7 linked regions of the Homo sapiens genome follow. The protein of the gene in region 4 interacts with the protein of the main gene of each other region in a biochemical or structural test. Each region holds a gene or a part of one and is shown on either strand. Other genes may lie near its edges.

Region 1 (4,251 bases), on a different chromosome or scaffold from region 4:
AGGTGGCTGTTCTGCGGTGAGTAGAAAGCTGGCGGTCCAGTCCCTCTGGAGTGCTGGAGTGGGGAGTACAAGGACTGTAGAGTTAGTGGACTGTGCCGCAGGTTGGGACGGGCAGGCAGTTAGGACTCACTGTGGAGTTTCTGTGGTTGGATGCTCCTCCCTTGAGAGCAAAGGGATGTTTCCTTTAGTTTATGTGGTTGTCAAGCCTTTCGAAGAGCCCCTTTTTAGGAGAATACCCTCCTCTGGGCACAGTAAACTCAATAGCCCAATTTCTGTCTCTGGGTTTTGGTTTGAGGTGGGCAGAAATAGGCCCTATTTTTACCTTTATTTCCCAGAACCCTTTTTTTTATAGCTGAGTTGCCTTATTTTAGACTTCAGAACAGTCAGCTTTCCAATCTTTCAGTCACTATTTAGACTTGTAGGAATAAGTCATATAATGGAGACTTCTACAAGGAGTCCTTGTGACCTCCACAGGAGGGTCATGGAGTGTACATTGATGAAAGAGAATGTCCTCTCTGTAAGCAAGGCTGGCACTGAACTGATGGCCCAGTGAACTAATGGTGGGCTTCTCTTTGCTCAGAATGCCACCCGGGTTATCAGCCGTGCCATGTGTTTGTTTTTGGGACTGGGGGTGGTGTTGGGACTGGGGGTGGTGTCGACAGCACAGAACCCACTGTCCACGGGAAAGCACAGTAGACCTCCCTGAGCACTTTCCTCCTCCCTCTCCTCTCTTCCCCTCCCCTCCCCAGCAAAACACGGCATGTGAACATTCTGCTTTTCATGGGGTACATGACAAAGGACAACCTGGCAATTGTGACCCAGTGGTGCGAGGGCAGCAGCCTCTACAAACACCTGCATGTCCAGGAGACCAAGTTTCAGATGTTCCAGCTAATTGACATTGCCCGGCAGACGGCTCAGGGAATGGAGTGAGTAGATGGTCTGATGCCTCTCTGGGACCCAGGCATCAAATTTGTCCCTAAATTGGAACCAGGATCAGGAAAAGCCTTCTAGTCCATTAAGCGATTCTGTGATATCTTTGCACAAGCCTCTGGCCTGGGCTGGAGGGGCCAATTATCAGGAATGAGTTGTTCAGGTTCCAGCTGGGTGGGGTGGCTCACACCTGTAATCCCAGCACTTTGGGAGGCCAAGGCCAGTGGATCACTTGAGGCCAGTAGTTTTGAGACCAGCCTTGCCAATATGGCAAAACCCTGTTTCTACTGAAAATACAAGAATGAACCAAGTCTGGTGGCACATGCCTATAATCCCAGCTACTCAAGAACTGGGACAGGGAGAATCGCTTGAACATTGGAAAGCAGAGGTTGCGGGGAGCTTAGATCACGTTACTGCACTCCAACCTTGGCTGCAGAAGCGAGACTCTGTCTCAAAAAAAAAAAAAGAGAAGTTCAGGTTCCTCCTTGGGACTGAACTTCCCCCTTGGGGCTCAGCTTTGGGCTCTGCCTGCTACCCTGGCTTTATCAGAAACCTGAGAATATAGTGGGGTGCATGTACCTTCTGCTTGGACAGCTGTGGCAATGCCTTCTGCTCAGCTGTCTGAGGCATGGCTGTCCCACATGAGGGTTTAAGCAGATGTTGTTTTTGGGATAATTTTTTTTTTTTAATTAAAAACTTTTTCCTGGCCAGGCACGGTGGCTCATGCCCATAATCCCAGCACTTTGGGAGGCTGAGGCGGGTGGATGACGAGGCCAGGAGTTCGAAACCAGCCTGGCCAATGTGGTGAAATCTCATCTCTACTAAAAATACAAAAATTAGCTGGTTGTGGTGGCAGGCGCTTGTAATCCCAGCTACTCGGGAGGCTGAGGCAGAAGAATCACTTCAACCCGGGAGGCGGAGGTTGCAGTGAGTGGAGATTGTGCCATTGCACTCTAGCCTGGGTGACAGAGCCAGACTCCATCTGAAAAAAAAAAAAAAACCCAAAAAAACCACACTTTTTTCCTTAGAGACACAGGTTCTCACTCTGTCACCTATGCTAGAGTGCAGCGGCGCAATCATAGCTCACTGCATCCTTGAACTCCTGGGCTCCAGCTATCCTCTTGGCTCAGTCTCATAGGTTGCTGGGACTGCAGGCACATGCTACCGTGCCCAGCTAATTTTCGTGTATTTTGTAGAGTCGGAGGTCTCACTATGTTGCCCAGGCTGGTCTCAAACTGGACTCAAGTGATCCTCCCACCTTTCCTGGCTAGCCTAGGGTAGTGCTTCTCAAACTTCTCCTCTGAAGTAGAGGAGCTCCTCGTACCCCTAGACATCTGGGAGTTACTAAGCTATAGCTGTGCTTGCAAGTCCTACATAAATTCTCACACTGTCTTTAAAATTCATATGGAAGTTGCCTTCTGTGTATTTTAAGAAATGGAATGACTTTTCAGAAAAATTGAGATATAATTCATACATCATAAAATTCCCCCTTTTAAAATGTACACCTACCTCAGTGTTTTTCTGGTATTGAGTTGTGCAGCCACCACCACTATCTAATTTTAGAACATTTTCATTATCCCGGAAAGAAACACATGCCCATTGTATTAGTCTGTTTGGGTTGCTCTAAAGGAAGACCTAAGGGTGGGTAATTTATAAAGAAAAGAGGTTTATTTGACTCGGGGTTCTGCAGACTGTACAAAAAGCATGACACCAGCATCTGTGTCTGGTGAGGCCCTCAGGAAGCTTTCACTCATGGCAGAAGGCAAGGGGAGCCACGTGTGATGTGGTGAGAGAAAGGAGCAAGAGAGAGAGCATGGAGGGAGGTCCCAGACTCTTTAATAACCAGGTTTCATGTGAGCTAATAGTGTGTGAACTCACTCGTTACTGCAGGGAGGCCACCGAGCCGTTTGTGAGGAATCCATCCCCATGACCCAAACACCTGCCACTTAGGTCCCACCTCCAACACTGGGGATCACATTTCAACTTGAGATTTGGAGTGGACAGATATCCAAACAATATACCCATTAGAGGTTACCCAATACCTCCCACCCACTTGCAGTCTACTTTCTGTTTCTATGGATTTTGCCTACTTTATAGTTCAATATAAATGGAATCATGTAAGATATAATATAGTCAGGTAACATATAATGATGTTTCGGTCAATGACCACATATAGGAAGGTGGTCCCACAAGATTATAATACTGTATTTTTACTGTGCCTTTTCTATGTTTGGCTATGTTTAGAGACACAAATACTCACCATGTTACAACCAGCTACAGTATTCAGTACACTGAGGGCCATACAGTTTTGTAGCCTAAGTGCAACACGTTATACCATTTAGCCAGGGTGTGTAGAAGGCTGTACCTTCTTGGTTTGTGTGAATACACTTTATGATGTGTGCATGATGACAAGTTGGCTAACAACACATTTCTCAGAAGGTATCCCTGCCGTTAAGTGATGCTTGGCTGTATATAATACATAAGATATGGTATTGTGTGCCTGGGCTCTTAGACCTAGCATAGTATTTTCAAGGTTAATGTGTAGCATGAGTCACTACTTCATTCCTTTCTGTGTCTGAGTAACATTCCATTGTATGGATATGCCACATTATTCATTCATCATTTATGGACATTGGGTTATCAGAATTACTTTAGAGTAAAACTGATGCTTGAAGAAGTGTCAGCAATGGTCAGGCGCCAGGGGCCCATGCCTGTAATCCAAGCATTTTGGAGGCCAACATGGGAGGATCACTTGAGCCCAGGAGTCAAGACCAGCTTGGGCAACAGTGCAAGACCCTGTATCTACCCAAAAAAAAAAAAAAAAAAAAAAAGGCGGCATGGTGGCACATGCCTGTGGTCCCGGCTACTGGGAGGTGGGAGGATCACTTGAGCCCAGGAGGTTAAGGCTGCAGTAAGCTATTGACTGCACTCCAGTCTCCAAAAAAAAAAAAAAAAAGGTGTAAGCATGTTTGTGCTGTGGCCTCACCTTCAGGTAAGCAGTGATGTGAACCAGGCTGAACAGCACAGGGTCTATCCCTGTGTGTAACACTCCTTGGAGCCAGGCCTTCAGTGGCTTTACTTCTTAGCTGTAGTTTAAAACTGCTTTCTACTCATGCCCCTCAAACTTATTTTTAATAATTTCTTTTCCCTTCACAGCTATTTGCATGCAAAGAACATCATCCATAGAGACATGAAATCCAACAGTATCCTTTGGTTGTTGAGTTCATTTGACTGCTCGGTTCTAAATTTAGGGAAACAGAAGGGAGGCTTTCTATCACAAGTGGCTCTCGGTGCCAGGGGATATCTTTTTAAGGAAAGAGG
Region 2 (3,523 bases), on a different chromosome or scaffold from region 4:
CGCCTGGCTAATATTGTATTTTTAGTAGAGACGGGGTTTCTCCATGTTGGTCTGGCTGGTCTTGAACTCCTGACCTCAGGTGATCCACCCGCCTTAGCCTCCCAAAGTGCTGGGATTACAGGCGTGAGCCACCACACCTGGCCTCTTGCTCTTAAGAATTCTACAGCCTGACTGGGCATGGTGGTTCACGCCTGTAATCCCAGCACTTTGGGAGGCTGAGGTGAACAAATTGCTTGAGCCTAGGAGTGCAAGACCAGCTTGGGCAACATAGTGAGACCCTATCTCTTAAAATAAAAAAGTAGCCAGACCTGGTGGCATGCCCGTAATCCCAGCTACTTGGCAGGCTGAGATGGGATCACCTGAGCCCAGGAATTGCAGGCGGCAGTGAACTGAGATTGTGCCACTGCACTCCAGCCTGGGTGACACAAGAGACCTTATTTCAAAAAAAGAAAAAAAGAATCCTCCAGTCTGTTGGCAGAGTTGGCGGGGCACCCACCTGCATCACAATCAGACCGTGGAGACTGGACTTTGGGGTGTTGAGGTGCCTTGGGACTCCTGAGTGCCCTGACCCTGTACCCCTCCCTCCACTCCAGAGGGGACCCCATATGCTGGAGGTCTGTTCCGCATGAAACTCCTGCTGGGGAAGGACTTCCCTGCCTCCCCACCCAAGGGCTACTTCCTGACCAAGATCTTCCACCCGAACGTGGGCGCCAATGGCGAGATCTGCGTCAACGTGCTCAAGAGGGACTGGACGGCTGAGCTGGGCATCCGACACGTACTGCTGGTGAGTTCTGGGCTGGGGCTGGGCCTCCTGCCTCCTGCCTCTGGAGGTCTGCTGGTGTCTGAGCCATAGCGCTTTGTTTAGTTTTTCTGAATCAACTCTGAAGTGGTTGAAGGTTTCCACATAAAAATCCATGTTGCTAGCTTTCCTGGAAAGACAAACAGTGCCAGACCCAGGACACCCAAGTACTGTTGAGAAGTGCCCAGGAGCACCTTACTATGCAACGAGTGGTGAGTTTGTATTGTAGGATGGTTTTTCTCTTCTCCCTTTTTTTTAAAAAACAAGGATAGGGTAGGCCAGGTGTGGTGGATCACTTGAGCTCAGGAGTTCGAGACCAGCCTGGCCAACATGGTGAAACCCTGTCTCTACTAAAAATGCAAAAATTAGCCGGGCATGGTGGCACATGCCTGTAATCCCAGCTACTTGGGAGGCTGAGGCAGGAGAATCGCTTGAGCCTGGGAGGCAGAGGTTGCAGTGAGCCGAGATCGCGCCACTGCACTCCAGCCTGGGTGACAGAGTGAGACTCTATCTCAAAAAAAAAAAAAAAATAAGATAAAAAATAAAACAGGAATGGGGTCTCATTTGTTGCCCAGGCTGGTGTCAAACTCCTGAACTCAAGTGATCCTCCCACCTCGGCCTCCCAAAGTGCTGGGCTTATAGGAGCCAGCCACTGCGCCTACCCTGTAGGACAGTTTTCTGACAGGTGGAGGTCAAGGGTCTAGTTAGAAGCTCTTTCTTTCTTTTCTTTCTTCTTTCTTTCCTTTTTCTTTCTTCCCTTTCTTTCCTTTCTTTCTTTTTGTTTTAAAGATACTGGCTCTTTGTTGCCCAGGCTGGAGTGCAGTGGCGCAGTCATAGCTCACTGTAGCCTTGAACTCCTGGGCTCAGGTGATCTTCCTGCCTCAGCTTCCTGAATGGCTGGTATTACACGCATGCACCACCATACCCAGCTAGTTTTTATATTTTTATGGTTTGCAGAGATGGGGTCTCATTAGAGGCTTTTTTGCTAAAGCTGAGCTTACATGCCGTAAAACTCAGTTCCAAAGTATACAGTTCAGTGGTTTTTTAATAGCGATAGGGTTCATAAACCAGTGTTTCTCAGCCAGAGGTGATTTTGCCCCCCAAGGGGTATTATGCATTGTCAGGAGACCAGAAAGGGTTGTCACAACTCGGGGGTGCCACTAGCATCTAGTGGGTGGAGGCCAAGGGTGCTGCCCAAATCCTGCAGCGTACGAGATGGCTCCATGACACAGAATGACCTGGCTGCGGTGTTGCTGAGGTGGAGGCGTCCTGGTCTAGGCTGGTGCTCCAGGCTGCTTACAGCCTGCTGCCTCCCAACCCTTCCCGCAAGCTGAAAAAAAAAAAAGTTAACCAAATTTCTAATGAGTCCCTGGGGCACATGGCAGAGAGGGTGGGGAATTGGGGTTTCCTGCCATGGGGAGGGAGAGGATTGAGCTCCAAGGTAAACAGACCCCAAACCCTTCCCTCCCACATGTACCGCCTCCCTTCCCCTGGGGTGTCATTGGAGGCTGCTGGGGACATTGGCACCGAGCTCCAGGCCTACTTGCTGCTAGGTCAGCATCTGGGCCTGTCAGGGGCTCAGCCAGCAAGAAGAGCAGCCAGACCTGCAGTTTGGGTGCAGTGATGAGAATTAGGGTGGGAACCTGTGTCCTGGTCACCATCAGTGATATCTGCTGAGCATCTGCTGAGCCAGGTACTGTGTATGTGTCATAGTGGCCCCAGGGAGCAAACTGCTGTGGCCAGTTTGCCCAGACCCACTTCAGAGGATCCAGCTGGGGCTGCTGGAGGCCTGGCTGCAGGTCACACCTCTGCACTCCAATTTACCCCTCAGGACGGGCTGTGAAGGGGGTTGAGAGGAATCTCTGGACCACCCTCGAAGTGCACCTCAGCCAGCAGTCCTGGTGTCTTGCCCTCTTGTGTGTGGTCCAACCCAGCTAGAGTCTTAGGCTGTGAACTTCGGATGTCTGATAAAAGACAGAGGTCAGGATTTATGCTGTATCTGGAAAGATGGGGAGCTTTAGAGTCCAACACGCAGGTGTGATTTCCTCAAATCCTGAGGCCCTGGGGAAGTCTCTTCTCTCTGTCCAGGCTGCAGGCCTCACTCGTTGAACCAGAGGGCCTCTAAGGTCATGCTGAACTGCATGGAGGCAAATTCAAAACCATAATAGGACTCAAGTCTGGGGCTCAGGCAAGTAATGGACTCCTGAGAGGGGGCCTTGGCGTTTCCCCCGTTACCCAGCAAGTTCCACGGAGGACCAGGGACATTTTAAACCATTGGGCCTATGGCATCGTGTCCTTTTGGGAACATCTGCTGTGAGGCAGGTCACATGAAGGTGGCCTCTGAGGGAGACAGGAGCAAAGATGAGGGAGGATGCAGCATAGGTGGGGCCTGGATCTGCAGCTGAGTTGGGAGCAGAAGGAACAGCCAGTGCGGAGGCCACCCTCTTGTGGAGGCCTGGGGGTCCCTGTAGGTTGCCCGACCCACTGTGACCCTGAGCCTCTTCCCACAGACCATCAAGTGCCTGCTGATCCACCCTAACCCCGAGTCTGCACTCAACGAGGAGGCGGGCCGCCTGCTCTTGGAGAACTACGAGGAGTATGCGGCTCGGGCCCGTCTGCTCACAGAGATCCACGGGGGCGCCGGCGGGCCCAGCGGCAGGGCCGAAGCCGGTCGGGCCCTGGCCAGTGGCACTGAAGCTTCCTCCACCGACCCTGGGGCCCCAG
Region 3 (4,251 bases), about 30 Mb from region 4:
ACGCCTGGGTAATTTTTGTATTTTTTAATAGAGACGGGGTTTTACCATGTTGGCCAGGCTTGTTTCAAACTCCTGACCTCAGGTGATCTGCCTGCCTTGGCCTCCCAAAGTGCTGGGATTACAGGTGTGAGCCACTGTGCCCGGCTCTTTTTCTTTTTTGAGACTGGGTCTTGCTTTGTCACCCAGGCTGAAGTGCAGTGGCGCGATCACTGCACACTGCAGCCTCAACTGCTTGGACTCAAGTGGTTCTCCCACCTCAGCCTCACGAGTAGCTGGGACCACAGGCACATGCCACCACACCTGGCTAAATTTTTTATTATGTGTAGAGATGAGGTTTTGCTGGTCTGGAACTCCTGGGCTCAAGGGATCCTCCTGCCTCAGCCTCCCAAAGTGTTGAGATTACAGGCGTGAGCCATGGCATCCAGCCTTCTTTCTTTCAGCAATGTTTTGTAGTTTTCATTTTACAAGTCTTTCATCTTGGTTAAGTTAATTTCTAACTATTTTATTATTTTTGATGCTATTGTCAATGGAACCATTTTTGTAATTTCTTTTTCTGATTGTTCATTGTTAGTGTATAGAAATGGAAGTATTTTTTGTGGTTGGCTTCGTATCCTGCTAATATGCTAATTTTATTTGTTCTAATAGTGTTTCATCTTTAGGGTTTTCTGCATATAAAATCATACCATTTGTGAGTAGAGATAATTTTACTCCTTCTTTCCAATTTGAATGTCTTTTATTTCTTTTTCTTGCCTCCTTGCTCTATTAACTTCTAGTAATGTGTTGAATAGAAGTGGCAAAAGCAGAAATTCTTGCCTTCTTCCTGATCTTATAGAAAAAGGTTTCAGTCTTTCACCATTGAGTATAATGTTTGCTGTGGGTTTTTCATATATGGCTTTTACTATGTTGAGGTAGTTTCCTTCTATTCTGAGTTTGTTGACTGTTTTTATCATGAAAGCTTGTTGAATTTTGTCATGTGCTTTTTTCTGCATCAATTGAGATGATGATGTAGGGTTTTTTTCATTCTCTTATGAACCCCAAAAATCTGAGACAGGTCTCAGTCAATTTAAGAAGTTTCTTTTGCCAAAGTTAAGGATGCACGCCCAGGAGACAGGTCTATGCCTTTCTCTGAACATGAATTTTAGGGTTCCAAATTTAAAGGGGAAAGGGCAGGATATTGAGAAGTACACAGTTTTCAGGTAAGAGCAGGGTAGGGGGAAATAGTCATTCAAGCATTTGTCTGGCTCAGTGAATTTGCATTTTTACGTAAGGTAACATAGGGCAGGGGAAAATGCAGGGAACCTGCATTTTTACGTAAGATAACAAAGACAAATGGGGCAGGGGAATAATCAGATATGCATTTGTGCCAGGTGGGCAGAGGGGTGATGCCTCTGTAAAGATAAGCTATCCATTTACATTGCCGTGGTGAATTTTATCAGACAACTATCTTGGAGCTCACCAGGAATTTCCTTGTGGGCAAAATATGGGAGAGGTGTGTAGCTTTTCATCTTGTAGCCATCTTATTTAGGAACCAAAACGGGGAGGCAGGTTTGCGTGACCCAGTTCCCAGCTTGACTTTTCCGTTTGGCTTAATGAGTTTGGGGTCCCAAGATTTATTTTCCTTTCACACTGTTAATGTAGTATATTGCACCGACTTTCATATGTTGAACCATCCTTGTCTGTGTATTTCAATGACAAGAGGTGTTTGTTTCTGCTTCCTGCAGAGCAGAAAGACCATGGGTTTGAGGTGGCCTCCACTTCCCCTGAAGACGAGTCCCCTGGCAGTAACCCCGAGCCAGATGCCACCCCGTTCCAGGAAGGTTTGAGGACCTTCGACCAGCTGGACGCCATATCTAGTTTGCCCACACCCAGTGACATCTTTGTGTCCTACTCTACTTTCCCAGGTGAGCACATCAGAAGGGCTCGTCCTCGCAGCCAGTGGGTCTTCCCGTCTGCCCTAGAGGCAGCTGTGTGGTGAGAGAAAAGACCAGGGTATGAGTCCTGGTTCTGTCTTTTGCCCCTCTGTGACCCTGAGCAAGTTACTTCTCTCTGAGCCTCGGCTCAGGCTGAGCGGGCAAGGATGCGCGCTGCAAGGAGGCCTGCGCCCTTGGGTTCCTATGCCTCACTTGCCTCTCCTCTGCCTGACCCTGCCTCTGCCTTCGCATCTTTAGCAGGGGAATAGGAATCGTGCCTCAGGGGTTTCCATGGGAATTAAACAAGGTGGCTGGCACGTCACTGAGCACAGTGCGGGGCACGTAGTAGTTGCAGCAAGCGGTAGTTTCCTTCCTTCTTTTTTTTTTTTTTTTTTTTTTTTGAGATGGAATCTCGCTCTGTTGCCCAGGCTGGAGTGCAGTGGCGCGATCTTGGGTCACTGCAAGCTCTGCATCCCGGGTTCACACCATTCTCCTGCCTCAGCCTCCCAAGTAGCTGGGACTACAAGCACCTGCCACCACGCCTGGCTAATTTTTTGTATTTTTAGTAGAGATGGGGTTTCACCGTGTTAGCCACGATGGTCTCGATCTCCTGACCTCGTGATCCACCTGCCTCGGCTTCCCAAAGTGCTGGGATTACAGGCGTGAGCCACCGCGCCCAGCCTTTTTTTTTTTTTTTTTGAGACGGAGTCTTGCTTTGTCGCCCAGGCTGGAGTTCAGTAGCATGATCTCAGCTCACTGCAACCTCCACCTCCCGGGTTGAAGTAATTCTCCTGCCTTAGCCTCCTAAGTAGCTGGGATTACAGGCATGCATCACCACACCCAGCTAATTTTTGTATTTTTAGTAGACACAGGGTTTCACCATGTTGGCCAGGCTGGTCAAGAATTCCTGACCTCAAGTGATTTGCCCACCTCGGCCTTCCAAAATGCTGGGATTACAGGTGTGAGCCACTGTGCCTGGCAGTTTCCTTCCTTTCTTATGTCTTGGATGAGTCACTTGACTTTTCCAAGCCTTGGTTTCCTTGCTGGGAAAACAGGAATTATAGCCGGAATCAGGGGATGGTCATGAGGGTGAAATAAGATCATGATTAGGGCAGAGCCTCAGGGGCCAGGCTGCTCCTGTTGGATGTATGTATGAGTCAAGGTCTGGAGGGCGCCCGAGCCAGCGTGCATGGCCAGAGGGGTGGTGGGGAGCCGGCGGAGGGGTGGCTCTCCAGCAGTGTTCAGCCCTCCTCCCTCCAAAGGTTTTGTTTCCTGGAGGGACCCCAAGAGTGGCTCCTGGTACGTTGAGACCCTGGACGACATCTTTGAGCAGTGGGCTCACTCTGAAGACCTGCAGTCCCTCCTGCTTAGGGTGAGTGCTGCCTTCCTCTGCAAAGGAGAGGGGAGGCTGCTGAGGGGCAGCGTGTCCTCCTGGGGCTGGGGATTTGGGGTGAGCAGGGCAGGCCCAAACCAAGGGTAAAAGGTAGTAGACTCCTGCCTCTGAGCCTTGGAGTCGGCACTTTTGTGTCTCTTTATGAGAGGCATCCTGCCTGTGGTGACGTTTGCCCTTTATTCAAAGAGTTGCCTTCCCTGTCTCCTCCAAGGTCCCCAGGTTGACACCTCCCGCTCCTCCACTGATGGAGCTGGTCCTCAGTGCCAGCGCAGGATGGCTCTGTCCAGACCCTGAAGGCGGGTCATGGGCCCCTCCCTATATCCTGTGGGCATCATGTAGTCTTCTACTCTTGACCCTCAAGAATTGTGAACCCCTCCTTGTACATCGCCTTCTCAGGAGGCCCCAGTGAGGAAACAGATAGGGAAGGGTGGCCTGATAGGCCCAGTCCTACTCCATAGAAACCCGACTCAGAGCAGTTGCTTCCTCTGAGGGTCCTGTGGCCTTGTGGCTGCCTTGGGAGGCAGCATGTATGGGCCCCAGCTGCTCTGCTCAGGTATTCATGCCACGAGAAGGGGCTGCGAGGCTGGGGCCACTCCTGGCTCCTTGCAAATATTTCAGTCTGATTTGAACTTTATGAATTTGGAAATTTTGAATTTTGAGTTTTTTAAAGGTAAAGTTGAGGTGCGTATTCTTTAAGCCCTCCTGCTCAAAGAGGCTGCAGTTTGAGCTGTTTTTAAGGTGCGGGTTGAGTGGACATTCCCCCCAGCCCCTCTTGAATTCTTCCTTCAGTCCAGAGAACTGAACTCACAGAGCTCTCCATGGTCATGTCTTACAGGTCGCTAATGCTGTTTCGGTGAAAGGGATTTATAAACAGATGCCTGGTTGCTTTAATTTCCTCCGGAAAAAACTTTTCTTTAAAACATCATAAGGCCAGGGCCCCTCACCCTG
Region 4 (3,889 bases):
GTATAAGCTGTTCAAGGGTCAGAGAAGCCCCCAGGTCCTGCCTTTTCCTGTCCCTTTATGTTGGGGAGTTGGGGGTGTTACAGGTATGCTAAACTCTTTAGCTGCAGTCTATCTACCCATGCCAGATTCATCAAGATCCTCGATAGTGTCCTGCACCACCTGGTACCTGCCTGGGACCACACACTGGGCACCTTCAGTGAGATTAAGGTGAGCCGACCCAGCCAGTGCTGGTCTTGGCATTTCCCCTTCCTGCTCACGTAGTTGTTCATTCCTTAGCAGAGTTCCTAAAATCTACTCTAGGGCAAGACCTTTGCTGGGTCTGGGAACATAGGAAGAAAGCCAGAACAAATGGTCCAAATTTAGTGTTTGGGAGGCTGTTCCCCAGCCTCCTTGGTATTCCAGAGTGTGTGGAATACCCAAGGGCTATTGACAGCACAGGCAGGGCAGTTTGCGTGAAAGGTACATACAGGGAGTTACCAGCAGCTCAAGATGTCTTGAGAAAAGTGTGCCAGTAGGTGTGAGTATGACAGAGGGATGAGGGTGGAAGGATGTGGGCAGGAGACAGGTCCTGGTTGCAGAGGGCCCTGTGGGCCAGGCTGTGAAGCAAGGACTTTGTCCCAGGGTAGTGGAGCTGTTGGAAAGGTAAGGAAGGTAATGACAGTATTAGATTTTTTTGTTTTAGAAAGCTCTCCCTGGTGGCTGAACTAAGGAGGGGACTGGAGACAAAGACAGGGATGGACTAGACTTGAACTGAAACGGTGGAATTGGATACAGGCAGAGGGGAAAGTTCCAGGGCCTGGACGGAGGCTGACTGCCCACTCATTCCTGCTCTGGCCACCTCTCCTCACTAGCAAGTGAAGCAGTTCCTACTGCTGTCCCGCCAGCGGCCAGGCCTGGTGGCTCAGTGCCTGCGTGACTCTGAGAGCAGCAAGCCCAGCTTCATGCCACGCCTATACATCAACCGCCGTCTTGCCATGGAACACCGTGCCTGCCCCTCTCGAGACCCTGCCTGCAAGAATGCAGTCTTCACCCAGGTCTGCACCACCTAGGGTCCGACTGAGATAGGATCAGTCAAGGGCCAAGGGGGCTAGGCCAAGAGGGACCTGAACAAGTTCTTGGGGCAAGTATAGGGCCAGGTCTTGCTTTCCTATGACTCCTTTCCTCCTTGCCTCCAGGTATATGAAGGCCTCAAGCCCTCTGACAAATATGAAAAGCCCCTGGACTACAGGTATGGCATGAGAGTGAGGGACTTACTCGGGACACCTGTTTGTGCACACAAACACACACAAACACACACACACACACACACACACACACACAACTGCTCGAGGCACCCCTCGCCATGACTGCTTTTCCCAGGTGGTCTCTGAGCTGATGAATTGTGCTGCACCTGGCCCCACATAATGACAAATCTGCCCACGTTTTTTGCAGGTGGCCCATGCGCTATGACCAGTGGTGGGAGTGTAAATTTATTGCAGAAGGCATCATTGACCAAGGTGAGGCCCTGAGGGAGGATCTCAAGGGTCCTGCTTGCTGCCCTATCAAAGTGGTAGAGGCTTTTCACCAGCTAATGATGATGGGGGACCTATTCATTACCCCATTATGGGAGCTGGGCTCTTGAGTGCCCAGCTGAGGGCATCTGTCATTTCAGGGGGTGGTTTCCGGGACAGCCTGGCAGATATGTCAGAAGAGCTGTGCCCTAGCTCAGCGGATACCCCCGTGCCCCTGCCCTTCTTTGTACGCACAGCCAACCAGGTAATCTCCGTTTCCATCTCTGCAAACCTCCCAGGTGCCAGATTGAGCTAGAAAGGGGGCAGAGGAGGGGGCCAGATTGAGCTAGAAAGGGGGCAGGCACAGTGGCTCACGCCTGTAATCCCAGCACTTTGGGAAGCCGAGGCGGGCAGATCACGAGGTCAGGAGTTCAAGACCAGCCTGGCCAATGAAGTGAAGCCCCATCTCTATAAAAATAAAAAATTAGCCGGGCGTGGTGGCACGCGCCTGTAGTCCCAGCTACATGGGAGGCTGAAGCAGGCGACTCGCTTGAACCCAGGAGACGGAGGTTGCAGTGAGCCGAGATCACGCCACTGCACTCCAGCCTGGGTGACACAGTGAGACTCTGTCTCAAAAAAAAAAAAAAATAGAAATAGGGCAGAGGAGGGACTGAGTTGCTCAGGGCAACCTCTGGGCAGACAGGGAGAGGAGGAGCCACTGTGCATTTGAAGGGATCATTTAGTGGAAAATGTTCCCAGTGGAAAATGTTCAGGGAAGTCTTTGGGCCAGGAAAATAGGGTGTATCTCATGCCACACTCACAGCTCTGTCTCTGGGGCAGGGCAATGGCACTGGTGAGGCTCGGGACATGTATGTACCCAACCCCTCCTGCCGAGACTTTGCCAAGTATGAATGGATCGGACAGCTGATGGGGGCTGCCCTTCGGGGTAAGGAGTTCCTGGTGAGTAGCCTTATCCACACCCCCGTCCGATCAGCCCTGGCCCTTGGAAGGAAAGGCCAGCCAAACCTGGGCAGCTCAGGGTGAGAAGACAGTGGGGAGTGTTTGTCACACAGGTCCTGGCCCTGCCTGGTTTTGTGTGGAAGCAGCTTTCTGGTGAGGAGGTGAGCTGGAGCAAGGACTTCCCAGCTGTGGACTCTGTGCTGGTGAGTAGGACCTGGAACCAGTGTTTCCTCTGCCCAGCCCCTAAAGGTTGGTCCTCCCTAAGGCTGTTCTGTACCTTGTTCTTTCACCACACACAAGATCCCTCTCCAATCCATCCACTCCCATGGCTTCAACTACTGTCTGTAGACTCGTGACCCCTAAAATCCTGACCTCTAGCCCCAGCCTCTCCTAAGCCTGGGGCCATATATGTATCTGTACCCTCGACGTTTGCCCCAAGATGGCATCTCAGGCTCAGTGTGTTCTTTATCTTCTCCGAAGACTACTCCCCTCTAGGGCTCCTGCCTCAGAAGGGCACCATGTCCCACTCCTCCCCATCCCAAAGCCCACAGGGCCATCCTTCACCCCTTCTTCTCCCTCGCCACCATATTCTTAAGTCTTCCTCTGTAATCTGTTTGCTTTTCCTGTCTCACTACTGTCTCCCTGCCTGGTTGAGGACACCTTTCCTCCTTAGCTAATCACTTACTAAAAAGCTGGTGTCCCTGTCTCCGTTCTTACCCGTTTGGTCTCCATGCAGCCACAGTAATTCATTTCACTCTCCTTATTTAAACTCATTGATGGCTCGGCCCTGGGCTTAGGATAGAATGCAGAATCTGTAAAGGCCTTACGTGAACCCTGTGTCTCCAGCCACTTGGTTCACATTCAGGCTCCAGCCACACAGTTTCCTTAGGCCTTTTGCTCTTTCCAGCTTTCTCCAAGATGTTCTCTCTCCTAACTTCCCTTATGTCCCAGCCATCATTTGGGTCTCAGCTGAGACACCATTTTCCACAGGATGCCTCCTCTGGCCTCCAAGGCTGGTTAGGTGTTGTCTTGATGCTTTTACAGCTCTTGTACTGACACCCTCATTCCCTGCTGCCTCCATGGGGACTGCCTTGCCTGGCTGTCTCTGCTTCCCTGTGAGCATCTTGTGGAAAGACAGGGACTATCTCCACAGTGAAAAGGTTACCTCCCTGCCTCTCTCCAACCCCTAGGTGAAGCTCCTGGAAGTGATGGAAGGAATGGACAAGGAGACGTTTGAGTTCAAGTTTGGGAAGGAACTAACATTCACCACTGTACTGAGTGACCAACAGGTGGTGGAGCTGATCCCTGGGGGTGCAGGCATCGTCGTGGGATATGGGGACCGTTCTCGTTTCATCCAACTGGTCCAGAAGGCACGGCTAGAGGAGAGCAAGGAGCAGGTAGTACCCAGAGGCTAGTAGAGCAGAGAGCTTTGGCCCCTC
Region 5 (4,548 bases), on a different chromosome or scaffold from region 4:
TTTCCAATTTGAAGTGTAGTTGCTTGCAAAAGTATATCTGACAGACATTTTCAATGTATTTTCTAGAAGGAACACATTATATTTTGTTTTGAGACGGAGTCTCATTCTGTCGCCCAGGCTGGAGTGCAGTGGCACAGTCTTGGCTCATTGCAACCTCCGCCTCCCAGATTCAAGCAGTTCTCCTGCTTCAGCTTCCCGAGTAGCTGGGATTTCAGGTGCGTGCCACCATACCTGGCTAATTTTTGTATTTTAGTAAAGACGGAGTTTCACCATGTTGGCCAGGCTGGTCTCGAACTCCTGACCTCAAGTAATCCACCTGCCTCGGCCTCCAAAAGTGCTGGAATTACAGGCATGAGCCACCATGTCCAGCCAGAATACATTGTATAAGAAAATTGATTTCAATTATAATGTACCTGTGGTACTTAACTACCAAGGATTGGGAACTGTTTGACCATAATTTTTCCATCTGTTGGATAAGAGCTGAATCAGAATGTCATTCTAAGCTAATAGTGGCTATCATCCATGACCTAAAACGGACTCTTGTTAGGGGACTGAAGATTGGCAAAGGGAGAAGCTAGAGGCCATATAGAAGAGGAAAGCATGAAGGTAGAAACCACAATCAGGACTGCCTTCAAATATGAACTTCCAGGGATACTTCTTGGTTCTGGGTAGCTCCCCCACCACACTGTTTTCTTTTGCTGTCCTCAGGAATCAGCTTGCTTGTTTCGTTTCATTGCTATCATCTGTAGTTTCTAATGAGTTTTTCACTTTCTGTGATCTCTACAGAACAGATTTTACTTTTCTCTCTTCTCCCCTACATTTGTGTCTGTGAAGTATGCATGCTGGTGTTTTTACTACTTTTAAGGAAAGAGAAGTATTTAGAAACAAAAACGTATTTCATCTGTCTTTGCCACAAGGATTTTTTCCTCCCTAGTTACATTTTCACGGGAAAAACAAGTTGTACATAAGTGCATCTTACATTTCAGAGGAAAGTCAGACTGGAGTTATAGTGGACTTCTTATCATTAGTTAGGTAGAGGTAGAGGCAGCAGCCTGGTCTTAACAGGACTCTGCCTCTGTAGGGAGGGATGAGGAAACTAAAGACTACAGGAGTCAACTGCACTGGGGTACTGGGTTACAGGAAGGCTAGTGATCTTGCTAACCTAGAAGACTAGAAAGTAGAGGAAATTCATATGCCCTTTTCCTGAGTTTGAAAAGGCTTTGTTCTTTCATCTCACAGGGAGACTTCAGCACAAATGATAGAAGAAAATTTGAACTGCCTTGGCCATTTAAGCACTATTATTCATGAGGCAAATGAGGAACAGGGCAATAGTATGATGGTAAGTTTTGTGTGGATATGGGTGCCTGCTTTGGCTATGTTGGGTGCAAAAGGTTTAACTTTCCATGCTAGCCTTATCTGGCATTTGGGATGCATATGGGAAATAGAAGAACTCAAGAGGAAAGAGCATTTGGGGAATATCCTCAACCTTAAATCCTTATCTGCCGTTACTCAGGGATATACTAGGATTATGTCATCAATTATCTTCAATAATAGCATTTTTGGTCAAATTAAATGAGTGGTAAGCTTCTTCACAATGTGACCATTGAAATTGAATGGTTTGTTCTGTACCTTTTTGCTTCAGCAATCAATTTTCTCCATTAAGATGGGACTTGTACTTTAATTCAGATATGGTACCTCCCGAATAGAAAATAAATTATGTTAATATAGTTGTAATAATAAGTGTGTGTTAAGATTTGGTTACTATAAACTACTGATTTGTTAAAACTTGAGGAAATTACCATAAAATGTCTACTGAATCAATTTTTCCTGCATTTAGTCTTAATGTCAATTCTGTACATTTCCTCTTTCATTAAGAAAAATAGCAGTGGCCAGGCATGGTGGCTCACGCCTGTAATCCTAGCACTTTGGGAGGCCAAGGCAGGTGGATTGCTTGAGCCCAGGAGTTTGAGACTAGCCTGGCCAACATGGGAAACCCTGTCTTTATAAAAAATATAAAAATTGGCCAGGTGTGGTGGCACACACCTGTGGTCCCAGCTACTTGGGAGGCTGAGGCAGGAAGATCGCTTGAGTTCAAGAGTTTCAGGCTGCAGTGAGCCGTAATCCTGCCATTGCACTCCAGCCTGTGACAGAGTGAGACTTTGTCTCGGGGAAAAAAAAAAAAAAAAAGGATAATGGTGGCCAGCCATATGACATGTACCTGTAGTCCGAGTTACTAGGGAGGCTGAGGCAGAAGGATTGCATGAGCCCAGGAGTTCAAGGCTGCAGTGCATTATGATTGGACTTGTGAATAGCCACTGTACTCCAGCTTGGCAACATAGCAAGATCCTGCTCTCTTAAGAAAAAAAAAAAAAAGAAAAGAAAAGGAAAGAATAATTGTTTACTTCAAATATTTATGAAAAAAACTCTGAAATTTTTTTAAATCAGGAAATAAGGTAAATGAAATGATTTTTCAACTTTTGATTATGAAATGTCCAAACAGAAAACTTGCAAAAATGAACACCCATATACTTATAACTTATAGTCAACATCTAATTGTAACTTTTTCATGCCTGGTTTTAGAATCTTGATTGGAGTTGGTTAACAGAATGAGTTGTCACTTGTTCACTGTCCCCAAACCTATGGAAGTTGTTGCTATACATGTTGGAAATGTGTTTTTCCCCCATGAAACCATTCTTCAGACATCAGTCAATGGAAGAAATGGCTATGAACAGAAACTACATTTCTACTATGATCAGAAGAACATGATTTTACAAGTATAACAGTTTTGAGTAATTCAAGCCTCTAAACAGACAGGAATTTAGAAAAAGTCAATGTACTTGTTTGAATATTTGTTTTAATACCACAGCTATTTAGAAGCATCATCACGACACATTTGCCTTCAGTCTTGGTAAAACATTACTTATTTAACTGATTAAAAATACCTTCTATGTATTAGTGTCAACTTTTAACTTTTGGGCGTAAGACCAAATGTAGTTTTGTATACAGAGAAGAAAACCTCAAGTAATAGGCATTTTAAGTAAAAGTCTACCTGTGTTTTTTTCTAAAAAGGCTGCTCACAAGTTCTATTTCTTGAAGAATAAATTCTACCTCCTTGTGTTGCACTGAACAGGTTCTCTTCCTGGCATCATAAGGAGTTGGTGTAATCATTTTAAATTCCACTGAAAATTTAACAGTATCCCCTTCTCATCGAAGGGATTGTGTATCTGTGCTTCTAATATTAGTTGGCTTTCATAAATCATGTTGTTGTGTGTATATGTATTTAAGATGTACATTTAATAATATCAAAGAGAAGATGCCTGTTAATTTATAATGTATTTGAAAATTACATGTTTTTTCATTTGTAAAAATGAGTCATTTGTTTAAACAATCTTTCATGTCTTGTCATACAAATTTATAAAGGTCTGCACTCCTTTATCTGTAATTGTAATTCCAAAATCCAAAAAGCTCTGAAAACAAGGTTTCCATAAGCTTGGTGACAAAATTCATTTGCTTGCAATCTAATCTGAACTGACCTTGAATCTTTTTATCCCATTTAGTGTGAATATTCCTTTATTTTGCTGCTTGATGATGAGAGGGAGGGCTGCTGCCACAGACTGTGGTGAGGGCTGGTTAATGTAGTATGGTATATGCACAAAACTACTTTTCTAAAATCTAAAATTTCATAATTCTGAAACAACTTGCCCCAAGGGTTTCAGAGAAAGGACTGTGGACCTCTATCATCTGCTAAGTAATTTAGAAGATATTATTTGTCTTAAAAAATGTGAAATGCTTTTATATTCTAATAGTTTTTCACTTTGTGTATTAAATGGTTTTTAAATTACTTTCTTGATCTCTATTCATTATAAAAATCAGATTATAATAAAACAGTTGAATATGGCTTAGGAAAATATGAAGGTTCCATGAAGTGGAATTAAGAGCATAGAATAACTGTACTTTCCTTAGGAATAATAGGACTTATGGTAAAGGTAGTATTGGGCAACTTCTTTAAGAGTGTTTTCCTCTGAGATGTCCTATCACCACTATCTACATCTAAAAAACATGCTCGATTCTTGCCCTATAAACTGATGTCACAGCCCCACCATCCCCATTTTTGCTAGTGGTATCATTTTCCTAGTCAACCAAATTTTTTAGTCATCACATATCACTGTTCGTCATCTATTATAATAGGCAGTCTCTCTCTTGTTTCCCTGGTTTTAGAAGATTTTAGTAATAAACATTTATTGGGTACCTGTTACTTGGAGGGTATTAAGCTAGATGGCAAGATCTGAAACAACATAGGCAGTATAGTAAAAGTGCTTATCTGGGAGTCTGAACATTACAAGCCATCCAAGCATTGCAATTATTGTTAAGGATTATTTTCAATGGTCATGCATTTTCTAATATTTTAATAATTGGTTAAAGATTTGTTATAGCGTGGGGGCCGCTGCTGGTGTGTGGCTGGGGTTATGTCAGGGCAGCCTGATCTATATAATTTGGGCAGATGGTGTGAGTCAGAACAGACTATTATAGTGGGATCCCCAAACTTGC
Region 6 (4,251 bases), about 180 Mb from region 4:
GCACCTGTAATAAAAACACAATGCTTGCGTTCATTTTTCTCTGGTGCTGAAGTGGACTGTGTTGGCACACACAGTCTCTGAACACCCCGCTTAGACCAACTAGAGGAGGGATTTTTGCCTCAGCTTCTAGATGGCCCGGTCCTTGAGCCTATCTCCACACTCATGTGCCCCATTGTCCTCAGCCCATTCCCTGCAGTGTTGCAGGGGTTTGGGTGGGCGAGAGTATGTTGAGTCTGGTACCAGGTGTTTACATCGCTAAAGAAAGAGCCTTGGCTTCTTTCCTAGGACAAAGTATAGACCTATGGGTCCAAGCAGGGTAAGACACCACATGTCATTTGTTTTGCCCCTAGAGCACCTTCCTGATGGGAAAACTGTAGGTGTGGTTCTTCGTGAAGGGATTCTTATTCTCTTTTTACAATTCTGAAGCCTTTTAATTAAAAGACAGGGAGGTAGACCAGCATTCTAGGTTTTCTGAAGTTTGAATATAAATATGAAAATAAAACATAACTAGTCTCCTCCGTAATACTCAGGCTTACTGAGCATAGATTACATCAGCTATTTGACAGATGCTTGTTAGGCCTGTGCTCTGAGCCAGGGATAATTTTCATTGCACATCATAGCTGTGACTTCCTCTGGCCCATTGTGTTTTAACTCATGCTGAGCTGGACTCTCTTCCAGGAGCCAATTGCTTGTTCTGGAGATGCCCTGTTCACTGACAGTGAATCCCACATTCTAGCTTCCCTGATATCCCAAAACATAGAATTTTAAGACAAAAAGGAACCCTGAGATTCTCTAGCAGCCCAAGTAGATGAAGAGGTGGAGGCTTAGGTAAGTGGAGCCACTGGCCCAGGATCTGCCCAGCCCACAGGCCTGGGACACAGGCTCTCGGTCATGCCCGGCTTCCTTTGAGGAGTGTGGTGTTGAGCTATGCATTGACTGAGCCTGAGCATTCCTCCTCTGTAGCTCTCCTGGGTCTCTTTTGTGCTAATCCCAAGATTCTGTTTATCCAGGTGGTTGACAGAGATTCTGAAGAAGCCGAGATCATCAGGAAGTATGTTAAGAACACTCATGCAACCACACACAATGCGTATGACTTGGAAGTCATCGATGTAAGAATCCCTTCTTCCCCCACTTCCTTCTGTGTCCTGCCAGCTCTTCCCTGCCCACTCCTCCAACCTGGGCCTGGGTAGAAAAGAGCAGTTTATTTACTTTAAATAACCCAAAGAAGTGACTCATTTGTTCAGCAGAAAAATTAGTAGTTTTTTTTTTGTTTGTTTGTTTTTTGTTTTTTTTTTTGACATGGAGTCTCACTCTATCACCCAGGCTGGAGTGCAGTGGTGCAATCCCGGCCTGCTGCAGCCTCTGCCTCCTGGGTTCAAGTGATTCTCCTGTCTCAGCCTCCAGAGTAGCTGGGATTACAGGCGTGAGCCACCACACTCTGCTAATTTTTGTATTTTTAGTAGAGATAGGGATTCACTATGTTGGCCAGGCTGGTCTTGAACTCCTGACCTCAGATGATCCGCCTGCGTTGGCCTCCCAAAGTGCTGGGATTATAAAATTAGCAGTCTTATACAGTAGTTTGGGGATGGCTTTTTATTCTGTTTTAAAGGACATTTCCTGTCCCCAAACCTGGTCTCAGAACATAGATTATCAGATGTCCAAGATAAAGTTCCTCAAGTGCACATCTGCTGCACAGTAATACTAACCAGCAATGGCTGGGCGCTGCTGGGCAGGACCTGGACCTTCCATCCCAGCCTTGTGGAAAACACTTTTTACATTGCAGCAGACCTTAAGTCTTCTAGCCTTAGGGACAGCCGGTCATTTCTCGTGTATCCAGTCCTGTCTTTCAGTCAACCAGAGTAACAAATGGCTTCTTTTGTCCTTCCCTTTGTTTACTACTCCAACCAGATCTTTAAGATAGAGCGTGAAGGCGAATGCCAGCGTTACAAGCCCTTTAAGCAGCTTCATAACCGAAGATTGCTGTGGCACGGGTCCAGGACCACCAACTTTGCTGGGATCCTGTCCCAGGGTCTTCGGATAGCCCCGCCTGAAGCGCCCGTGGTATGTGCCTGGCCTGGCGAGGGGTGGGCAATGCCTGTCTCTGCAGGTGTCTCCATAAAGAACTTTGAGCAAGAGGTCTAGTTGGTTTAGGGGGATTCTGCCAGACATCCTTTCTTTGGGCCTTCACCCTTTTATCCTCCTGACCCTAACCCTGTCAGGGGTTTCAAACACAGTTTCTGGAACAAAGGAGGCAGAGCATCCAGGCCAGGGCCTGCTGCAGATGCTAATCGGGTGTGTTGACAAGCAAAGAACAGACACGTGGCTACAGGCCAAGCTGAGTCCAGGCTTATCTCTACCACTTCCCAGCCGGGCCACCTCTGAGTGTCAGTGTCTTCAGCAGGAAAACGTAGCGATGAATGAGTAAGGCTTTACCTAGACACGAGGGATCGTGATGCCACCTGCTGGATTCTAGATGGGTCCACCTGGACAGGACCTTCTAAGCCTCTTGTTTCACAGTTGTAGAATGAGGAGGAGAGAAGTTTAAATGATTCTCTCTGGGGCTGTGCAGTAGTGTATAACGGGCAAATGGCCTACCCTTTGTGAACCTCGTGTTTCATTTACAAAAGGGAATAAAAATACCAGCCTGCATTCCTTGGGTGTTGACAGGCGCTAGTTTAAGTAACACTGATGAGCTCATTCCGTCCTCATGGCAGCTCCATGAGACTGTGTTCCCCATTTGAGAAAAGAGGCAAGTAGAGTCCAGAGAGGTTACGTAGCTTCTTGCAGCTCCTTGGCACCTGGCAGAGCTAGGATCTGACAGCCTGGCTTGTGAGCTAAAACTTTGGTATTTCCTCACCATGGGCATTGTGAGAATTAGAAGTGATGGATTGCAGCACTTAGCTGGGTGGCTTGCTCAAGTTGGCACTCAGTGAACAGCTGCTCCTAATTTCCCATCAGAAGATTCTCAGCTCTCCCTTTTCCGACCTTCCAGACAGGCTACATGTTTGGTAAAGGGATCTATTTCGCTGACATGGTCTCCAAGAGTGCCAACTACTGCCATACGTCTCAGGGAGACCCAATAGGCTTAATCCTGTTGGGAGAAGTTGCCCTTGGAAACATGTGAGTAAACCTGGCTCTGGGACTGATGGCATTTCATGGGGACAGGTGGAATGGGCTATAGGCAGAACTCCCCTTGGCTGGGAGAGTAGAAATTCCCCACTGCAGTTACTGGACGCACCAATTAGGATTCTTTTCTTATAAGTAGCAGAATCCAATTCAAGTTAAGGGAACAAGGGAGATACAAGGATACTTCAGGAAATGCAAGGGCAGGAACGCAGCCAGGCCTCCAGAGCTGGCAGTGTCTTCTCTCCATGGACTGGGAAGCAGAGAGATTGAGTTGCACAAAGGATGATCCCCCAGGCCGCCTCCTCCACTCACCAGTGTTTCAGTTTTCTTAGACCAACCCAAATGGAACTGGAATTTTAATTCCACTTCCAGATTCTCCATAGAGAAAGATCTGATTAGTCCAGCTTGATTTGGACATCGACCCTAGTCCTGTGAACTGTAACCAAAAGCACAAGGTCATGTAAAAGGCCAGGGGTCTGGGGACTGTGGAATGTGGACGGAAACCTAGAGCTGCTGACCACCACTCCAAATAGGGCCTTGCCTTGAAAATGGCCCCATAGCAGTGATCGCTGGGCACAAACTATGTTCAGCCGCAACTGCAGTTTCAGGTTCTGGAACAGTTCCAGAAACTCAGGAGGGAGCCTGAGCAGTTTAGATGGTCTGGGTTTTGTGGACTTTTATCTCATCTCTGTATCTGATCTTATTCTCCTAATCAAACTGTTGGTTTCGAGAGCCCAGTGTGAAGGCCTCTTCTGAGACTGTCCTCTTTTGAATAGGTATGAACTGAAGCACGCTTCACATATCAGCAAGTTACCCAAGGGCAAGCACAGTGTCAAAGGTAAAGTGTTTCCAAAGCTGTTGCTACAGCCCGAGGCACCCTGGACAGCACAGAAGCCGGGGGCTTGCTGTCCTGAGAAGGCTGCCTTGTGGCTGGCTGTCAAACAGCTGGAGATTCATTTTATCTTTTCGAGGGGTGTGTGTGCGTTGTTGTTGTTGTTTGGGGGGTGGTGGTGGTGGTTAATATGCTGCAACTGACCATGATTGGAGGTTCATTTTATTTATTTTTGTAAAAAAAAAAAAAAAATAGGCAAGCTCTATAGCAGGAGGTTCATTTTTAAAAACAGT
Region 7 (4,251 bases), on a different chromosome or scaffold from region 4:
GGGCATGCTTATAATCCTAGCTACTCCAGAGGCTGAGGTAGGGAGTTTGAGACCAACCCAGGCAACACAGCAAGACTCCATCTCAAAAGAAAAAAAGAAAAGAAAAAATGCTACTAGAACACTTTTAGCTACTATCTCTTTTGATATCTTGACCACTGTTCAATAATTCATAGTACAATTCTAAAATACCCAAATTCTACATCAAGTTTTGTTTTTAAAAGAAATTTGGGGCTTTCACGTCTAATGGCATTTATTTGCTTTCTTCCTTTAGATTATGTCAAATGGTAGGAAATCAATTCTCTTTTCCCATTAATTGACAAATACCTATGGCAGGCAAATGGGCACTTGATGAAAAGTGCTTTATATATCAAAAGCCAAGCATAAGGCATTAAGCTGTTGAAAAATATACCATAGGAAAGTTTTTGTATGGGTGTGGTGGCTCACACCTGTAATCCCAGCACTTTGGGAGGCCTAGGCAGGCAGATCATTTGAGGTCAGGAGTTCGAAACCAGCCTGGCCAACATGGTAAAAGTCTCTACTAAAACTACAAAAAAAACGAACCTGGCGTGGTGGCCTGCGCCTGTAATCCCATCTACTCGGGAGGCTGAGGCATGAGAATCACTTGAACCCAGGAGGCGGAGGTTGCAGTGAGCCAAGACTGCACCATTGCACTCTAGCCTGGGTGACAGAGTAAGACCCTGTCTCAAAAAAAAACAAACAAAAAAAAAAGTTTTTGTAGACAAGAGGAGTCACGTGAAACAATCAGGGATAAGACTGGCATCATCTACTTATAATAATACTCAATGCATATATTTCTCTTTTCTAGCCCCAGGAGAGTATATTAGGACTTCACTTTAAATATCTGGCCGATATTCAGCCCTTAAACAAGAAAGATTTGTGACAAACATCTCCATCCCACCACAGATAACTTTCCATCTTGAGGCCATACTTACTTTTCTCTATCTGTTTTGTAGATCCGAGCAATCTCAGGCACTAAAGGATCATCTGGATTGGGATCACACAACAGAGAACAGATGGACAAGAGTACTAGAATGAAAAAAATCATATAAATTAGCAGAGGATCAAAGCAAAGGGTTGAGAGAAACATGAGACGCCAAAACATGAGAAAATTCTAAGAATTTATACTGTAATGCCTAGCAGCTTTGTAAGTTTTACTTAACTTTATATTAACAGTAACCAACAAGGATTATTATTATTATTATTATTTCTTTTTTTTTTAGCAGAATTGGGGTTTCACCATGTTGGCCAGGCTGGTCTCGAACTCCTGACCTCAGGTGATCCACCCACCTCGGCCTCCCAAAGTCCTGGGATTACAGGCTTGAACCACCATGCCTGGCCTAATTTTTGTATTTTTAGTAGAGATGGGGTTTCGCCATGTTGGTCAGGCTGGTCTGGAACTCCTGACCTCGTGATTCACCCGCCTCGGCCTCCCAAAGTGCTGGGATTACAAGCGTGAGCCACCACACCTGGCAAATAGTTTTTTTTATTTTTTATTTTTTGAGACGGAGTCTGGCTCTGTCGCCCAGACTGGAGTGCAGTGGCGCGGCGCGGTCTAGGCTCACTGCAAGCTCCGCCTCTCAGGTTCACACCATTCTCCTGCTTCAGCCTCCTGAGTAGCTGGGACTACAGGCACCCGCCACCACGCCCGGCTAATTTTTTGTATTTTTAGTAGAGACGGGGGTTTCACCGTGTTAGCCAGGATGGTCTCGATCTCCTGACCTCGTGATCCGCCCACCTTGGCCTCCCAAAGTGCTGGGATTACAGGCGTGAGCCACTGCACCCAGCCTACCAACAAGGATTTTAAGAAGCTTAAACAGACTTTAGGTTAGGTCATTAAAAAATAAAAATGAAGGCTGGCTGCAGTGGCTCATGCCTGTAATCCCAGCACTTTGGGAGGCGGAGGGGGGTGGATCACGAGATCAAGAGATTGAGACCATCCTGGCCAACATGGTAAAACCCCATCTCTACTAAAAATACAAAAATTAGCTGGGCGTGGTGGTGTGTGCCTGTAGTCCCAGCTACTCAGGAGGCTGAGGCTGGAGAATCGCTTGAACCTGGGAGGTGGAGGTTGCAGTGAGCCGAGATCGTAGCATTGCACTCCAGCCTGGGCGACACAGCAAAAAATCCATCTCCAAAAAATAATAATTATAATAAAAAATAAAAAATAAAATAAAACAAATAGCAGAAAATTAATGTTAAATGACATCTTGGTCTCCCAGATACAAATATAAGCCCCTTTGTGCAAAGTCTCACAACAATCCCATGATGTAAGAAGAGTTGATATGACTGTCTTTATGCCTGAACTCCTAAGGGAGCTGGCCCAGACAGGTGCAGTGACGTGTTCAATGTCCCTGGCTAGTAATTAGAATAGAATTAGAACTTTGTCTAAATTCTAGACCAAGAACATTTTTCAGATCCCATAAAGTTCAATTTTTTAGAAGCCCATATTCAAGGATAAATGGCTTTCAAAATTCCAAGTGCGATGGCTCACTCCTGTAATCACAGCACTTTGGGAGGCCACAGCAGAAGGATCGCTTCAGGCCAAGAGTCTGAGACCAGCCTAGGCAACAGAGTGAGATTCTGTCTCTACAAAAAATAAAAATATTAGCTGGATGTGGTGGCACACTCCTATGGTCCCAGCTACTCAGGAGGCTGAGGTGGGAGGATCACTTACGCCCAAGAGGTTAAGGCTGTATTGAGCTGTGTTCACACCACTGCACTCCAATCTGGGTGACAGAGTGAGACCCTGCCTCAAAAAGAAAAAAAAAAAAGACAGCCACACTACTGAATATTCTTAGCAAAAACGACAACCATAAAATCCAACAATCACTGTTTTCCAGTGGCAGGCACCACATTCAGACAATTGTTTTGTTTAATTTTCAGTTGAAAACAATTCAGTCTAAATCAAGAACATAAATGCAAACACTTGCCCCTAAATGGGGATGGTCATACACTCATTACAGAGAATACAACATACTTCTATGAATGTCTCAAATTCTCTTCAGTGACAATTTAGAATCTCATCTAAGCCATTTCCTCGGTGACAACCTGGGATGTAGCAGACAAATCTCAATAGTGTAATTTCCTTTGTTCAAATCTGTCATTAACTTATGTTTTAAAATATTTATTTATTTATGTATGTATTTATTTAGAGACAGGGTCTCACTCTGTCGCCCAGGCTGGAGTGCAGTGGCATGATCTTGGCTCATTGCAGCCTAAACCTCCTGGGCTCAAGTCATCCTCCCACCTCACTCTCCAGGTAAGACTACAGGTGAGTGCCACCATGTGTAGCTAATTTTCTTTGTATTTTTTGTAGAGGTTGGGTTTTGCCATGTTGGCCAGGCTAGTCTTGATCTCCTAGGCTCAAGTGATCCACCTGCCTCGGCCTCCCGAAGTGCTGGGATTACAGGCGTGAACTACCACACCCGGCCATATCTATCATTAACTTATGCATTCCTTACTGAATGCAAAGGGGGCATAAAGTCACTGATTACATTAAGTTCAGTAGCCTCTGACAAAATAAATTTAAATCCTTCTATACTAATGCTAATAGAGCTCAGCCATCTTTCTTTTCTCTAATAGGTGTTCTGTACCAAGAGATAATAACTCTCAGCCCATTTTACTCCCAACACATAAATTCAGCAGGGAAAGGATTCGCTCATATTCCTACCAAATCTATCCTATAGAGATCAAGGGCTTCTGAGAAGTAAAGAAATAGTTGGCATGCCCTATTCAGTTTGGTAACAAAAATGCTATTTCCTTGCCTTAAGAGTATATGAAAAGTTTTTTTAAAAAATCAGGAGAGATGTTTTCTGACTCTTCATTCCTGTTACCCACAATTCTGGCAGCTGGCATTCCAAAAACATTTTCCTATTGTCAGGTGTCATCACCTGAAGCCCTCTTCAAGCATAGAACATTCTAACATCAATTAGGAAAGACTTCATGTATTTCCTGGAAATGACAACAGGGAAGTTAGAAATTTTTGAATGTTCCTTTAACTTATTCTTCTAAATATTCTAATAAGTCAACTTTAAAGGACAGGTTTTAAAGAAAGGGCTTTTCTTTCTTTCCAGGAAAGGAGAGTACTGGCTATCTGGACCTTGTGAAAAGATTTTTAGTACACTACTTAGCTTCTTGATTTCATGAAGAATTCATTTTGGTTTCTAATATACTGATATGGTTTGGATCTGTGTCCCCACACAAATCTCATGTTCAACTGTAATCCCCAAC

Evidence for each region.
Region 1: the proteins of HECTD3 (region 4) and RAF1 form a complex in vitro, tested with the Homo sapiens proteins (one study listed by BioGRID).
Region 2: the proteins of HECTD3 (region 4) and UBE2S form a complex in vitro, tested with the Homo sapiens proteins (one study listed by BioGRID).
Region 3: the proteins of HECTD3 (region 4) and CASP9 form a complex in vitro, tested with the Homo sapiens proteins (one study listed by BioGRID).
Region 5: of the proteins of HECTD3 (region 4) and CHUK, one has a biochemical effect on the other in vitro, tested with the Homo sapiens proteins (one study listed by BioGRID).
Region 6: the proteins of HECTD3 (region 4) and PARP1 form a complex in vitro, tested with the Homo sapiens proteins (one study listed by BioGRID).
Region 7: the proteins of HECTD3 (region 4) and UBE2D2 form a complex in vitro, tested with the Homo sapiens proteins (3 studies listed by BioGRID).

The regions. Positions count from the first base shown.
Region 1 is NC_000003.12:12,587,473-12,591,723, reverse strand, and holds part of RAF1 (RAF proto-oncogene serine/threonine-protein kinase), read left to right. Parts: coding exon 1-16; intron 17-749; coding exon 750-926; intron 927-4,086; coding exon 4,087-4,133; intron 4,134-4,251. UniProt on the Homo sapiens protein: Serine/threonine-protein kinase that acts as a regulatory link between the membrane-associated Ras GTPases and the MAPK/ERK cascade, and this critical regulatory link functions as a switch determining cell fate decisions including proliferation, differentiation, apoptosis, survival and oncogenic transformation.
Region 2 is NC_000019.10:55,401,549-55,405,071, reverse strand, and holds part of UBE2S (ubiquitin-conjugating enzyme E2 S), read left to right. Parts: intron 1-593; coding exon 594-784; intron 785-924; coding exon of another isoform or gene 925-1,071; exon of another isoform or gene 1,072-1,109; intron 1,110-1,729; exon of another isoform or gene 1,730-1,940; coding exon of another isoform or gene 1,941-2,129; intron 2,130-2,414; exon of another isoform or gene 2,415-2,482; intron 2,483-3,309; coding exon 3,310-3,523. Other genes in the region: RPL28 (large ribosomal subunit protein eL28), read right to left, coding at 1,941-2,129. UniProt on the Homo sapiens protein: Accepts ubiquitin from the E1 complex and catalyzes its covalent attachment to other proteins. Catalyzes 'Lys-11'-linked polyubiquitination.
Region 3 is NC_000001.11:15,492,923-15,497,173, reverse strand, and holds part of CASP9 (caspase-9 isoform alpha precursor), read left to right. Parts: intron 1-1,721; coding exon 1,722-1,901; intron 1,902-3,172; coding exon 3,173-3,282; coding exon of another isoform or gene 3,283-3,390; exon of another isoform or gene 3,391-4,138; coding exon 4,139-4,231; 3' UTR 4,232-4,251. UniProt on the Homo sapiens protein: Involved in the activation cascade of caspases responsible for apoptosis execution. Binding of caspase-9 to Apaf-1 leads to activation of the protease which then cleaves and activates effector caspases caspase-3 (CASP3) or caspase-7 (CASP7).
Region 4 is NC_000001.11:45,004,558-45,008,446, reverse strand, and holds part of HECTD3 (E3 ubiquitin-protein ligase HECTD3), read left to right. Parts: intron 1-125; coding exon 126-207; intron 208-851; coding exon 852-1,034; intron 1,035-1,175; coding exon 1,176-1,228; intron 1,229-1,431; coding exon 1,432-1,496; intron 1,497-1,651; coding exon 1,652-1,755; intron 1,756-2,330; coding exon 2,331-2,450; intron 2,451-2,563; coding exon 2,564-2,653; intron 2,654-3,640; coding exon 3,641-3,847; intron 3,848-3,889. UniProt on the Homo sapiens protein: E3 ubiquitin ligases accepts ubiquitin from an E2 ubiquitin-conjugating enzyme in the form of a thioester and then directly transfers the ubiquitin to targeted substrates.
Region 5 is NC_000010.11:100,187,660-100,192,207, reverse strand, and holds the end of CHUK (inhibitor of nuclear factor kappa-B kinase subunit alpha), read left to right. Parts: intron 1-66; exon of another isoform or gene 67-215; intron 216-1,239; coding exon 1,240-1,339; intron 1,340-2,580; coding exon 2,581-2,610; 3' UTR 2,611-2,699; coding exon of another isoform or gene 2,700-2,780; 3' UTR 2,781-3,908; downstream 3,909-4,548.
Region 6 is NC_000001.11:226,362,812-226,367,062, reverse strand, and holds part of PARP1 (poly [ADP-ribose] polymerase 1), read left to right. Parts: intron 1-1,010; coding exon 1,011-1,109; intron 1,110-1,908; coding exon 1,909-2,061; intron 2,062-2,992; coding exon 2,993-3,120; intron 3,121-3,902; coding exon 3,903-3,964; intron 3,965-4,251. UniProt on the Homo sapiens protein: Poly-ADP-ribosyltransferase that mediates poly-ADP-ribosylation of proteins and plays a key role in DNA repair.
Region 7 is NC_000005.10:139,620,164-139,624,414, reverse strand, and holds part of UBE2D2 (ubiquitin-conjugating enzyme E2 D2), read right to left. Parts: intron 1,048-4,251; coding exon 954-1,047; intron 1-953.